Homo sapiens: one gene and its partners. The protein of the gene in region 1 purifies or fractionates together with the protein of each later gene. This does not show direct contact. Each region holds a gene or a part of one and is shown in the gene's direction. Other genes may lie near its edges.

Region 1 (3,981 bases):
AAACCCCATCTCTACGAAAAATACAAAAATTATCCAGGCGTGGTGGCAGGCGTCTGTAATCCCAGCTACTCGGGAGTCTGAGGCAGGAGAATGGCGTGAACCTGGAAGGTGGAGCTTGCAGTGAGCCGAGATCGCGCCACTGCACTCCAGCCTGGGCGACAGAGCGAGACTCCGTCTCAAAAAAAAAAAAAAAAAAAAAAAAAAGCAAAAATTAGCCAGGTGTGCACACCACGTCCAGCTAATTTTTTTTCAACCATTTAAAAGTGTAAAAACAGCTGGCCAGGCACGGTGGCTCACGCCTGTAATCCCCAACACTTTGGGAGGCCGGGGCAGGTGGATCACCTGAGGTCAGGAGTTCAAGACCAGCCTAGCTAACATGGCGAGACCCTGTGCACTAAAAAGACAAAAATTAGCAGGGCATGGTGGTGGGCGCCTGTAATTCCAGCTACTCGGGAGGCTGAGGCAGGAGAATGGCTTGAACCCGGGAGGCAGAGGCTCGTGCCATTGCACTCCAGCCTGGGCAACAAGAGCAAAACTCCGTCTCAAAAAAAAAAAAAAAAAAAAAAAGTGTAAAAACAGCTGAGCGTGGCGGTAGCTAGGTGTGGTGCGTCTGTAGTCCCAGCTACTTGGGAGGCTGAGGTAGGAAGATTGCTTGAGCCCAGGAGTGCCAAGCCAGCCTGAGCAACATAGTGAGACCTTGTCTCTACCAAAAAAAAAAAAAAAAAAAAAAAAAATTAGCTGGACATGGTGATGCTCGCCTGTGGTCCCAGCTACTTGTGGGGGGGTGGGGAGAGGCTGAGTGGGAGGATCCCTTGAGCTTGGGAGGTTGAGGCTGTAGTGAGCCGCGATCGCGCACCGCTGCGCTCTAGCCTGGGTGACAGAGTGAGACCCCGTCTCAAAATTAATTAATTAATTAAAACAACAAACAACAAAACCCCAGCTGTGTGGGCTCTGGGCTGGGCCGCCTCCCCGGCGGAGGGGGCTCCCTCTCAGGCAGACCGCCAGCCGCTGGGTCCGGGGACTGCCGGATCCGGAGGTGCGGGGACCCCTGCGCACCTGGCGGCTCCCGGGATGCCCCCCTGAGGCAGGCGGGAGGGCAGCACGGAGACGCCCCTCCGGGCAGAGCCCGCCCCAGCCACTCCCCTCTCCAACTCGACCTGCCTCAGCAAGTCCTGAGTGTCGCAAAAGCGCTAGGGTTGCAAGTGGCACCAGAGACGTGCCCTTGTCCCGGGGTCCATTTGAGGGTGAGCGTGTTGGTGCCGAGCTGTTTTTTTGTTTTGTTTTGTTTTGTTTTGTTTTTGAGACCGAATCTCGTTCTGTCGCCCAGGCTGGAATGCAGTGGTGTGATCTTGGCTCACTGCAACCTCCACCTTCCGGGTTCAAGTGAATCTCCTGCCTCAGCCTCCTGAGTAGCTGGGATTACTGGCACCCACCACCACGACCAGCTAATTTTTGTATTTTTAGTAGAGACGGGTTTTCACCATGTTGGCCAGGATGGTCTCAATCTCCTGACCTCAGGCGATCTGCCTTCCTCAGCTTCCCAAAGTGCTGGGATTACAGGTGTGAGCCACCGCACCCGGCCAGTGCTGAGCTGTTTTGACAACTTGGACCCCGGGTCCTCTGTGGGTAGGAAAATCAGCTCCCTCTTTGCTCCTCTGGGGCAGCTGCACCTCGGGCCAGCTTTCTGCCTGTCTGCCTGCCGGCACTGCTGGGTCGCTGTACCCAAACGCACAGCCGGTGCCCCGTGGTAAGTCCTGGCTCCCCACCTTCCCCGCCCGCCCCCGGCCACCTCTCCCTCCAGTTGCCCTGGTCTTAGCAGTCTGACCGACTTGTCTTCTGACTCCGGTTCTGTCCCACCAGCCTATTACCTGCCAGCCTGTCTGTTTCCCTCCAGCTAGAAGGTCTTCAGTTTCCAGAAGAACCAAAGCATCTTTGGACCTACCTAGGGAAGGACCTGCCTGTGACCTTTGCCCTGTCCTGGAGGGTCCAGCTTTGGGCTGAATGGCAGCACCCACGCTGGGCCGTCTGGTGCTGACCCACCTGCTGGTGGCCCTTTTTGGCATGGGCTCCTGGGCTGCTGTGAACGGGATCTGGGTGGAGCTGCCTGTGGTGGTAAAAGACCTTCCAGAGGGTGAGTGGGAGGGAGGTACAGGGAAGCGTGGGGCAGGTATGCCCAGAAAGGTGGCCTGTGGCAGCTCTTTGTCCCTTAGCCACTGTGCTCCTGACATGGCATCATTCCTTCCCTGCAGGTTGGAGCCTCCCCTCATACCTCTCTGTGGTTGTGGCGCTGGGAAACCTGGGTCTGCTGGTGGTGACCCTGTGGAGGCAGCTGGCCCCGGGCAAGGGCGAGCAGGTCCCCATCCAGGTGGTACAGGTGCTGAGTGTAGTGGGCACAGCCCTGCTGGCCCCTCTGTGGCACCACGTGGCCCCAGTGGCAGGGCAGCTCCACTCTGTGGCCTTCCTAACTCTGGCCTTGGTGTTGGCAATGGCCTGTTGTACCTCTAATGTCACTTTCCTGCCCTTCCTGAGCCACCTGCCACCTCCTTTCTTACGGTCTTTCTTCCTGGGTCAGGGTCTCAGTGCCCTACTCCCCTGTGTGCTGGCCCTAGTGCAAGGTGTGGGCCGCCTCGAGTGCCCACCAGCGCCCACCAATGGCACCTCTGGGCCTCCCCTCGACTTCCCTGAGCGTTTTCCTGCCAGCACCTTCTTCTGGGCACTGACTGCCCTTCTGGTCACTTCAGCTGCCGCCTTCCGGGGTCTCCTGTTGCTGTTGCCATCACTACCCTCTGTAACCACAGGGGGCTCAGGGCCTGAACTTCAACTGGGATCCCCAGGAGCAGAGGAGGAAGAGAAGGAGGAAGAAGAGGCTTTGCCATTGCAGGAGCCACCGAGCCAGGCAGCAGGCACCATCCCTGGCCCAGACCCTGAGGCCCATCAGCTGTTCTCAGCCCATGGTGCCTTCCTGCTGGGCCTGATGGCCTTCACCAGTGCCGTGACCAATGGCGTGCTGCCTTCTGTGCAGAGCTTTTCCTGTTTGCCCTATGGGCGCCTGGCCTACCACCTGGCTGTGGTGCTGGGCAGTGCCGCCAACCCCCTTGCCTGCTTCCTGGCCATGGGCGTGCTGTGCAGGTGCAAAAGGGTCCCCAGGCTTGGTGGGTGGAACTTAAGGTTGGGGTCCAGGTCCCAGAACAGCCAGCCCTGAGTCTCTGCTCATCCCCAACAGGTCCCTGGCAGGGCTGGTTGGTCTTTCTCTGCTGGGCATGCTCTTTGGGGCCTACCTGATGGCACTGGCAATCCTGAGCCCCTGCCCACCCCTGGTGGGCACCACTGCAGGGGTGGTCCTTGTGGTGAGCAAGTGGAGACATGAAGTGGGGAGGAGGGTGTCCCCTGGAGCAAGTGCATGTCATGCTCAGCCTGCTGCTGTGTCCTCCCTTGCAGGTGCTGTCGTGGGTGCTGTGTCTGTGTGTGTTCTCATATGTGAAGGTGGCTGCAAGCTCCCTGCTGCATGGTGGGGGTCGGCCGGCATTGCTGGCAGCTGGTGTGGCCATCCAAGTGGGCTCCCTGCTTGGTGCCGGTGCCATGTTCCCTCCCACCAGCATCTACCACGTGTTTCAAAGCAGAAAGGACTGTGTAGACCCCTGTGGCCCCTGAGCCTGGGCAGGTGGGGACCCAACTCCACCCCACCTGTCTTCATCGTGAGGCTGCCACAGTGCCTGACTACTTGTGGCCCAGGCAGGCTTCCCCCAACACAGGAACGCTCATGGACACCTGCACACTCCACAGAAGACGTTGGCATGTGAGGCCAGGGTGGGCACCAAAGACCAGGCCCAGAGCCAGGGGACAGGTTGGGGCTGTGGGCTTGGACCCAGGGCCTGAGACCTTTGTGGGATTTGTGCAATAAAGTGTTTTTATTTAAAACCAAAAACAAAAACAAAAGCCTAATGAAAACCTTATAAGAAATATATAATGAAATCAGGAAAC
Region 2 (3,500 bases), on another chromosome or scaffold:
AAACCTTTACTGAGCTGGGAATCTGGTTCAGTCTGGGATTGTCAGGGACTATTTCAGGGCAACAGAAGGGGACTGGCTTTTCTTGTCATAGGTCACAAAGGCAGAGAGAACCACACCAGCATCACCAAGATGGCCAGGAGTGGAAAATGCAGACATTGAGCCTAAAACAAGAAGCCATTTCCTTGGGAGCACTGTGATGGGGGCCGCGCTCACTCACTATATGCCCAAAGCCTCTGGCCTGGGTGGCTGCTGTTCAGTTGAGAGTGTAACCAGCTCCTGTTTTCCCTGCCAGGGCTTGAGTCCTGTGAGAACCTTGGGAAGAGAGAAGAGATAATGGGTAGTTTTAGGGGATAGAATACCCCTTCCTCCTACCAAATGTAAGAGAAATCCACCCCCGCAACAAGATCTTCTCAAACTGTTTTGTGCTCTGAAGTGTCTAAAGATAGGGGAGCTTTTCAGCCTATTCTAGACCCAGCTCCTTCTCAGAGGAAAAGAGAGGGAGCTGGCCAGGGACTACTCCCATGCCCCCTCAAGAAGAGCAGAGAGAGTTTCTACCCCATCATTCCACAAAGTCAGAACAGCTAGAACGGAGGCTGAAGAGACTGAGAGCAGCTGCAGAAATCCAAAAATATTGACCTTATAAGCTCAAGATGCTGTATGCTGGGTTTTTACAAGGATATTCGGTATTTGATGAAACCCAGTTAGGCATGACATATTCCCCTTCTCCCCATTCCTACCTCTCTTTTATTAAAAATTTTATAGTTACAGTGTCTATGTTGCCCAGCCTGGTCTTGAACCCTTTGGCTCAAGTGATCCACCTGCCTTGGCCTCCCAAAGTGCTGGGATTACAGATGGGAGCCATCGTGTCTGGCCCATTCCTGCCTCTTAAAGCCCTCCACCCAACAGGCAGACTTGAGACTCAAACCGTGGTCCCAGCTCTGCATCAGGGGTAGTTTGGAATTCAGATTCTTTCAAACTGGGGTAAAAACCAGGCCCAGAGTTCAGAGTTCAACAACAAGCTTCCAAGATGCCGCCCAAAGGAAAAAGTGGTTCTGGAAAAGCGGGGAAAGGGGGTGCAGCCTCTGGGAGTGACAGTGCTGACAAGAAGGCTCAAGGTCCCAAAGGTGGTGGCAATGCAGTAAAGGTCAGACACATTCTATGGGAAAAACATGGCAAAATCATGGAAGCCATGGAAAAGTTAAAGTCTGGGATGAGATTCAATGAAGTGGCCACACAATATAGTGAAGATAAAGCCAGGCAAGGGGGCGTCTTGGGTTGGATGACCAGAGGGTCCATGGTGGGACCATTTCAAGAAGCAGCATTTGCCTTGCCTATAAGTGTGATGGATAAGCCTGTGTTTACAGACCCAGCAGTTAAGACAAAATTTGGATATCATATTATTATGGTTGAAGGAAGAAAATAAAATCATATGAAAGACTGAAAGAAAAAAAAAAAAAAAAAAAAAAACTAGGCCCAGGACACCAAAGGCAAGAAAGGCAGAATCTTTAACAAATTAGGGGCTGGGTGCGGTGGCTCACACCTATAATCCCAGCACTTTGGGAGGCCAGGAGTTCTAGACCAGCCTGGCCAAAATGGCAAAACCCCGTCTCTACTCAAAATAAAAAAATTAGCTGGGTGTGGTGGCAGACACCTGTATTCCCAGCTACTCAGAAGGCTGAGACACAAGAATCGCTGGAACCCGGGAGGCAGAAGTTGTAGTGAGCTGAGATTGCACCACTGCATTCCAACCTGGGCGACAGAGTAAGACTCCATCTCAAAACACACACAAACTAGGCCAAAACCGTAAGCAAAAAGCAAAGAAAAACTCTTCTAAAATGGCCACTGTGATTTCTGTGCCTTCTCTTGTTTCATACATACATATATATATATATATATATATATATATATTTTTTTTTTTTTTTTGAGACAGTCTTTCTCTGTTGCTCAGGTTGGAATGCAGTGGTGTGATCTTGGTTTACTGCAGCTTTGACCTCCCAGGCTCAAGCAATCTGCCCCCCTACAAAGTAGCTGGGACAACAGGCATGCACTACCACACCTGGCTTCCTCCTCGCCCCGAGGCAGAGTCTTGCTCTGTCACCCAGGCTGGAGTGCAGTGGCACGATCTCTGCTAACTATAACCTCTGCCTCCCAAGTTCAAGCAGTTCTCCTGCCTCCCCTCCTGAGTAGCTGGGATTACAGATGCCCGCCACCACACGTGGCTGATTTTTGTATTTTTAGTACAGACGGGGTTTCACCATGTTGGCCAGGCTGGTCTCGAACTCCTTACCTCATGATCCGCCCGCCTTGGCCTCCCAAAGTGCTGGGATTACAGGCATGAGGCACCACGCCCAGCCTTTTTCTTTTTTTTAAGATGGAATCTTACTCACTCTGTTGCCGAGGATGGAGTGTAATAGTGCGATCTCAGCTCACTGCAACCTCCGCCTCCCGGGTTCAAGCGATTCTCCTGCCTCAGCCCACCAAGTAACTGGGATTACAGGCATGTGCCACCAGGCCCGGCTGATTTTTGTATTTTTAGTTGAGATGGGGTTTCACCACGTTGGCCAGGCTGGTCTGGAACTCCTGACCTCAAGCGATCCACCCATCTCGGCCTCCCAAAGTGCTGAGATGACAGGTGTAAGCCACCATACCCGGCCTGTCGTCTTCTCGATATATCAAAATAGAGTGCAGTGGCTACTGCTGCTGGTCATGTGGGTGTGCAGAATGGTACCCAATAAAACACAATGGGTGCTACTGGAAAGCAAAGGGTGCATTGGGACACAGCCTACTCATGTTCCTTTTGCCTTTCTAGGCCTAGAGTCCTTACGGGACAGTGCCCATTCCACACCAGTGCGTTCCACTTCCCATGGGGACACCTTCCTGCCTCACGTGAGAAGCAGCCGGACAGATAGCAATGAGCGAGTAGCTGTGATTGCAGACGAGGCCTACAGCCCTGCAGACAGCGTGCTGCCCACCCCTGTGGCTGAGCACAGCCTGGAGCTGATGTTGCTTTCCCGGCAGATCAATGGAGCCACCTGCAGCATTGAGGAGGAGAAGGAATCTGAAGCCAGCACCCCAACTGCTACAGAGGTGGAGGCCCTTGGGGGAGAGCTGAGGGCCCTGTGTCAGGGGCACAGCGGGCCCGAGGAGGAACAGGTGAATAAGTTTGTTCTAAGTGTCCTCCGTTTGCTCCTTGTGACCATGGGACTCCTCTTTGTTTTGCTCCTCCTCCTGATCATCCTTACCGAGTCTGACCTTGACATTGCCTTTTTCCGTGATATCCGCCAGACCCCCGAGTTTGAACAATTCCACTATCAATACTTTTGTCCCCTCAGGCGATGGTTTGCCTGCAAAATCCGCTCAGTGGTGAGCCTGCTCATTGACACCTGAGAAGGCATGACTCCTCCCAAAAACTAGCCAGGTGGACCAAGGAACCCGGCTACCCATTCCCAGCAATGGGACCCATCGCGGAACCATCGGCACATATACCAAGTCCTCCTCTC
Region 3 (2,411 bases), on another chromosome or scaffold:
AGCTGGCTGCCTTGTGGTTCCCAGAGCACCAGCGAGCCACGGCCAACATGCTCGCCACCATGTGTGAGTTCCGGGGAGGGAGGCCGCCTGCCTGGGCTCACCTCAGGGTCCACACAGACGCTCGGCTCCCCAGGCTCTCTGGCCAGGGTGGAGGAGCTGGGGCCCGGAAGGTTCTGCCTGTGGGCTGGCGATGAAGCCAGGCCACAGCCGAGCTGACACTTTGTGCATCCGCCCACCCAGCGAACCCTCTGGGCGTCCTTGTGGCCAATGTGCTGTCCCCTGTGCTGGTCAAGAAGGGTGAGGACATTCCGTTAATGGTGAGGGGTCATGAGACGCCCGTGCCTGGTCTGTGTGGTGTGTGCGCATGCACGTCTGTGTGTTCCTGATCCCAAGTGTGTCCGTGTTCCTGTGCCCGTGTGTGATTCCCGTCCCCCGCCCCGCCACCCGAGAAGGAGTCTCAGCCTGTCGCTCAGGCTGAATTGCAGTGGCGCGATCTCGGCTCACTGCAACCTCCGCCTACTGGGTTTAAGCAATTCCCCTGCCTCATCTTCCCGAGTAGCTGGGACTACAGGCGTGCGCCACCATGCTTGGCTAATTTTTTTTTTTTTGTATTTTTGGTAGAGTTGGGGTTTCACCATGTTGGCCAGGCTGGTCTCGAACTCCTGACCTCATGATCCGTCTGCCTCGGCTTCCCAAAGTGCTAGGATGACAGGCGTGAGCCACCGCGCCCGGCCAGTGTGTGATGTTTCTATGCCTGCCTGTGTGTATTGAGTGTGTGTGGTGTGTGCGGTGCGTGTCTCTGTTCCTGTGCCCATGTGTATTGTGTGATGTGTGCATATGTGTCTGTGTGTCTGTGCACATGTGTGGTGTGTACCTGTGTGTGCTCGTGCATGTGTATCAGGTGCGGGTGGTGTGTTTGTGCTTGGGGGTATGTACTGAGCGTGAGTCTGTATGCACGTGTGCCTCTGCACCCACCTGTGTCTGTGTGTTGAGCCCTATCATGGGCTGTGCAGCTGGCAGTGAGATGTAAGTCTGGAGCCTGGGGGTGCTGGGCTAACATCAGCCAGGAGGGTGTCACTGGTGAGGGATGCGTTGACAGCCAGGGGTCCCCATGAGCCCCTGGAGCAGGCCCCTCCCAGCCTGGGCCTCGCAAAGGGCAGCTGCAGACCAGAGGTTGGGAGGCAGCCGGTGGTGGGGCAGGAGGAGCTGGGAGGTGGCGCCTGGGACAGGCAGGGCTGCGGCGTGTGTGGGTGCCAGTCTGCGTGGTCTCCTTGTGCACACACACCCCTCCCCAGCTCGGTGTCTATACCATCCCTGCTGGCGTCGTCTGCCTGCTGTCCACCATCTGCCTGTGGGAGAGTGTGCCCCCCACCCCGCCCTCTGCCGGGGCTGCCAGCTCCACCTCAGAGAAGTTCCTGGATGGGCTCAAGCTGGTCAGTGCCGTGGGATCCCCGGGGTAGGGTGGATTTGGGGGTGGGGGCAAGAGGCTGAGGAGGCGATGGGTTTGGGAAGGGCCCCCGGGCTCCGGGGCTGAGACGCTCTTTCCCAGCAGCTCATGTGGAACAAGGCCTATGTCATCCTGGCTGTGTGCTTGGGGGGAATGATCGGGATCTCTGCCAGCTTCTCAGCCCTCCTGGAGCAGATCCTCTGTGCAAGCGGCCACTCCAGTGTGAGCCTGGCCCCACCCCTGGGGACCCTGCCTCTGTCATCCGCCCCATATGGCCATGGAGTCACCGCCGCCTCCAGGGTGCCCAGTGTCCGACCCTGGCGGGGGCCACATTGACACCCTTCTGTGCTGTGGGCCCTCCCGAGATGCCCTGTGTGACATTATGTCCACAGGCAGTGGAGGTGGTGGGCACAGCTGCAGTGGGGTGGGGCAGCTGTGGGACGGAGCGGAGGGACTGACGGTGCCCTGTGGATGGGAAGGTGGGGCCCCCAGGGCTCCCAGTGCCCCTTCCCAGCAAGGCCCCGCCCCTGTGGGTCTGCAGGACAGCGCCACCTTCTGGTATCCAGACGTGCAGCGGGGAGGGCCTTGCTCTGCTCGCATATCTCCGAGCTGGCCCTCTGCCCTCTGCCTTCTGGGATCAGTGCTCAGTGTAGGATTGGGGGCATGTTTCCACCTTTGCCAGGGCCACAGGCACCACGGCCCTGTGGGGCCTCTGTGGAGACAGGCTCTTCCCTTTAGCGATTGCTTTGCTCTGGGGTGGGGTGGGAAACACAAGGCAGGAAACCCTACCCCGCAGGCAGCCAGCGGTGCGTCTGGAAGCTGTGTTGCTATGCCTGGGCCTTGGGCACAGCACACGGCCCTACACTGAGCCCCCTGCCCTGACGGCATGCACCTAGGATAATGGTGGCCTCTTGGGGCCCTGGCCTCTTCTCGCCTCCTCCAGGGGTTTTCCGGCCTCTGTGGC
Region 4 (3,500 bases), on another chromosome or scaffold:
CTTGACTTCTTCTGTGAGTAAATAAAAAATGGCAGGGATCCAGTTACTTTTCTGTATACACTAAGCTTTTGTTGTAGACCAAACTGCATCCTGTTCCTGTGACGTGTGTGTGTGTGTGTGCGCGCGCGTGTGTGTGTGTGTGTGTGTGTGTGTGTGTGTGTTGGAAATGTTGGCATATTTTTTGAGTACTTACTGGGTATCTGCCTTTTTCTCTTTTAGAAACACACTTAAGTCTCCCAGTTACTTGGGGAAGAAAATAATATTCCTCCTTTAGCAATCACTGAGCTTCAAGGATAAAAAGCACCTTGTATGGGATCACAAAGACAGCAAGTGACAGAAATATGATTAAGAAAAGTCTATATGGGGCCAGGCACAGTGGCTCATGCCTGTAATCCCAGCATTTTGGGAGGATCACCTGAGGTCAAGAGTTCAAGGCCAGCATGGCCAACATGGCAAAACCCCATCTCTACTAAAAATATAAAGATTAGCTGGGCGTGGTGGTGGGCACCTGTAATCCTAGATACTTGGGAGGCTGAGGCGGGCATTGAGAATATAAAAGAGAGTCTATAGGAAATTCTGAGCGTTCTTTAAGTCAAAGTTTAGAGCCTAGACTCCCCGTTTCCTCCAGGTAATTTTTTTATTAGTGGTCTTGTTGCACTTTTCTCTCTATGGGCCTTTGTCGGAGCTACCCTGAAAGGTGTCTCTGTGAATTTTAGAGAGCAATGTTTTGCCTCATTTCTCCTAGAAATTATCTGAGTTGCTTACAAAAATTGGTCCAGAGGTAGGTTGTGCTTTGCTAAGTCCATTGCAATGTCTTAGGGTGTGTCTTTATCTAGGAGCAGTCAGAGGGCCCATTATTGGATAAAGATCTATTTCTGGGTGGCCTTTTGTCTCTGGCTTTTGCAAAGAGGAGAACATTTAATTGATGTCTAAAAATGATAATTTGCTGCAGGTTGTTTGCTTCTGTTCTTCCTTCACTTCCCAGCCCTGTCTCCTGCCATGTGCTGGCACTGTGCTAAGCATTCAAAATACAGTAGGGAATAATATGCTTTGGCAAATGGAAATGCCAATAGCTAACTACGGGGTAGTGTTCAATGCTGCAGAATGGAAAATAAAGATTACTACTATAGGAAACAGGAAGAGCACCTGACCCCAGACTTGGAAGATCAAGGAAAACTTCCTGAAGGAAAGGATGTCTAAACTGAGATGTAAAGCTACCCTTTATACTGATTACAGATGTACATTGTAGTTAAAAACAGTCTCCCATTTCTTTGACAGATGAACTATGTCAGTGTTTGAAAAAAATGAAGAGAGGGAAAAAAAGCCAGGTGAAGAACATTCTTGTGTCAAGCAGCTGTCATTCCAATTTGCCATACTTTTGGAATGGCTCTACCTTCTGTCATTTAGAACATACAGCATGAGTTTAATACTGATTGAGCAGCTGTATAACTGAGGCTAATTTTCAGTCAAATTCCTTGCGTTTGAGTGATTCACAGGGATGCTGCTAACCTAATATAGTTTTTCTGTAAATTAGAAAAAGGAAGCCTCTCTGTGCAAACCTATGGCATGGGAGAAGAAAACAGTTCTGTTTTATCTGGATAACACAGCTTTGCACTGGGGCACACAACTTGGGAGCAGAGTGTCTGCCAATTTCAAGTGTCATTGACCCTAGGCGAAGTGTAAATTGTTTAGTTCATTAACTGCGAGCTGTACACACATTAGCCCTGATCATTCAGTCATTAACTATTAAATCAATCAATATTTACTGATTGCCTATGTGTGTTGAACTTTCTTGAATATGGGTTAAACTGCCCATCTAGATGTCTGATAGTGCCCAAGATCTAGAAGGTTAAAACAGTGACTGAGGCCATGAAACTAGCTGGAGAACCTCAATAAGATGAGGGACAGATGCAGTTCATCAGAGGCCTGGTTGGTGAAGGATCAAGTTTGGTGCTACTGCTGGTTGGTGCCCATCCACAAACTGTTACCTGCCTCTGATAAGACAAAAACTACACGATGATGTAAATCAAATATGTCAATAAGCGCACTGTTCACCAAGCACACTGTTAGTTCAACGGAGATTATCATTATTTTTTCATAGCAAAGCTTTTCTGACGAAGGAAGCAAAAGAATACATAGACTTGCATATTGGCATAAGCTCCTTATCTCACTGAGGACCAGTAACAGTTCATAGACCAGCTACTTTGAGTAGCACCAATCTAGGCAACATTGGCCCACATTTGGCCAGATAGGTCATCTTGTATCCTTTCTGCCTTTATACTGTTTTCTTTTCTCTCTTTTCCCCTTATTTTTTCTTTGTTTCCTCTGCCTCCTCATCTTCTTCCTCTTCATCATTTTCCCTTTTCTTCTTCCTTCCCTTATTCCTACTTTACTGTTGCTTTCCCCTTCCATTTGATATTTCTCTCTTAAACAAAAATCACTGTGCATTTTATTCAGCTTTTTGTCTTTTAAAAAGCAAAATAAAGAAAGCCTACGTGTACAAGGAAAGAAATGTAAAATGGAAACATCACTAACTTGGAGAAAATTAAAAGAATTTAATGGTAATTAAAATAAAAATATGCCAATAAATTAGAAAGCCTGGATGAAATGGATTCTTTTTTTTCCAACTTTTATTTTAAGTTTGGGGATACAAGAACAGGTTTATGACATAGGTATATGTGTCATGCTGAAGTTTAGGGTATGAATGATCCCATCACCCAGGTAGTGAGCATAGTACCCAAAAGGTAGTTCTTCAACCCTCACCCCCTTTTTTTTCCTTCCCTCGCTATTAGTCCCCACTGTCTGTTTTCTCATCTTTATGTCCATGTGTACTGTTTAGCTCCTACTTATAAGTGAGAATATGTGGTACTTGGTTTTCTGTTCCTCTGTTAATTCACTTAGGATAATGGCCTCCAGCTGCATCCATGTTGCCGCAAAGGACATGATTTTGTTCTTTGTTATGGCTGTGTAGTATTCCATGGTGTATATGTACCACATTTTCTTTATCCAGTCCACCATTGATGAGCATCTAGGTTGATTTCACATCTTTGTTATTGTGAAGAGTGCTGTGATGAACATAGGAGTGCATGTGTCTTTTTGGTAGAATTATTTATATTCCTTTGCGTATATATCCATTAGTGGGATTACTGAGTTGAACGGTAGTTTTTTAAGTTCTTTGTGAAATCTCCAAACTGCTTTCCACAGTGGCTGAACCAATTTACATTCCTACCAACAGTGTATAAGCATTTCCTTTTCTCTGCAAATCTGTTTTTTTTTTTTTGACTTTTTAATGATAGCCATTCTGATTGGTGTGAGATAGTATCTCAATGTGATTTTGATTTGCATCTTTCTGATGATTAGCAATGTGGAGCATTTTTTCATGTTTGTTGGCTGCTTGTATGTCTTCTTTTGAGAAATATCCGCTCATGCCCTTTGCCTACATTTTTAATAGGGTTATTTGTTTTTTGCTTGTTGAATAATTTAAGTTCATTATAGATTCT

The links. Proteins that work in one complex are often made in the same cells at the same time.
Region 2: the proteins of SLC52A1 (region 1) and FRMD5 purify together in Homo sapiens (affinity purification with mass spectrometry; one large-scale study listed by BioGRID and IntAct). This does not show direct contact.
Region 3: the proteins of SLC52A1 (region 1) and SLC49A3 purify together in Homo sapiens (affinity purification with mass spectrometry; one large-scale study listed by BioGRID and IntAct). This does not show direct contact.
Region 4: the proteins of SLC52A1 (region 1) and COL14A1 purify together in Homo sapiens (affinity purification with mass spectrometry; one large-scale study listed by BioGRID and IntAct). This does not show direct contact.

What each region holds. Positions count from the first base shown.
Region 1 is NC_000017.11:5,032,627-5,036,607, reverse strand, and holds the start of SLC52A1 (solute carrier family 52, riboflavin transporter, member 1 precursor), read left to right. Parts: upstream 1-1,181; 5' UTR 1,182-1,747; intron 1,748-1,860; exon of another isoform or gene 1,861-1,894; 5' UTR 1,895-2,001; coding exon 2,002-2,131; intron 2,132-2,249; coding exon 2,250-3,129; intron 3,130-3,223; coding exon 3,224-3,347; intron 3,348-3,438; coding exon 3,439-3,651; 3' UTR 3,652-3,981. UniProt on the Homo sapiens protein: Plasma membrane transporter mediating the uptake by cells of the water soluble vitamin B2/riboflavin that plays a key role in biochemical oxidation-reduction reactions of the carbohydrate, lipid, and amino acid metabolism.
Region 2 is NC_000015.10:43,873,772-43,877,271, reverse strand, and holds part of FRMD5 (FERM domain-containing protein 5), read left to right. Parts: exon of another isoform or gene 1-1,466; intron 1,467-2,809; coding exon 2,810-3,387; 3' UTR 3,388-3,500. UniProt on the Homo sapiens protein: May be involved in regulation of cell migration. May regulate cell-matrix interactions via its interaction with ITGB5 and modifying ITGB5 cytoplasmic tail interactions such as with FERMT2 and TLN1.
Region 3 is NC_000004.12:683,741-686,151, reverse strand, and holds part of SLC49A3 (solute carrier family 49 member A3), read left to right. Parts: coding exon 1-63; intron 64-240; coding exon 241-317; intron 318-1,295; coding exon 1,296-1,433; intron 1,434-1,549; coding exon of another isoform or gene 1,550-1,552; coding exon 1,553-1,669; intron 1,670-2,390; coding exon 2,391-2,411.
Region 4 is NC_000008.11:120,128,102-120,131,601, forward strand, and holds part of COL14A1 (collagen alpha-1(XIV) chain isoform 1 precursor), read left to right. Parts: intron 1-3,500. UniProt on the Homo sapiens protein: Plays an adhesive role by integrating collagen bundles. It is probably associated with the surface of interstitial collagen fibrils via COL1.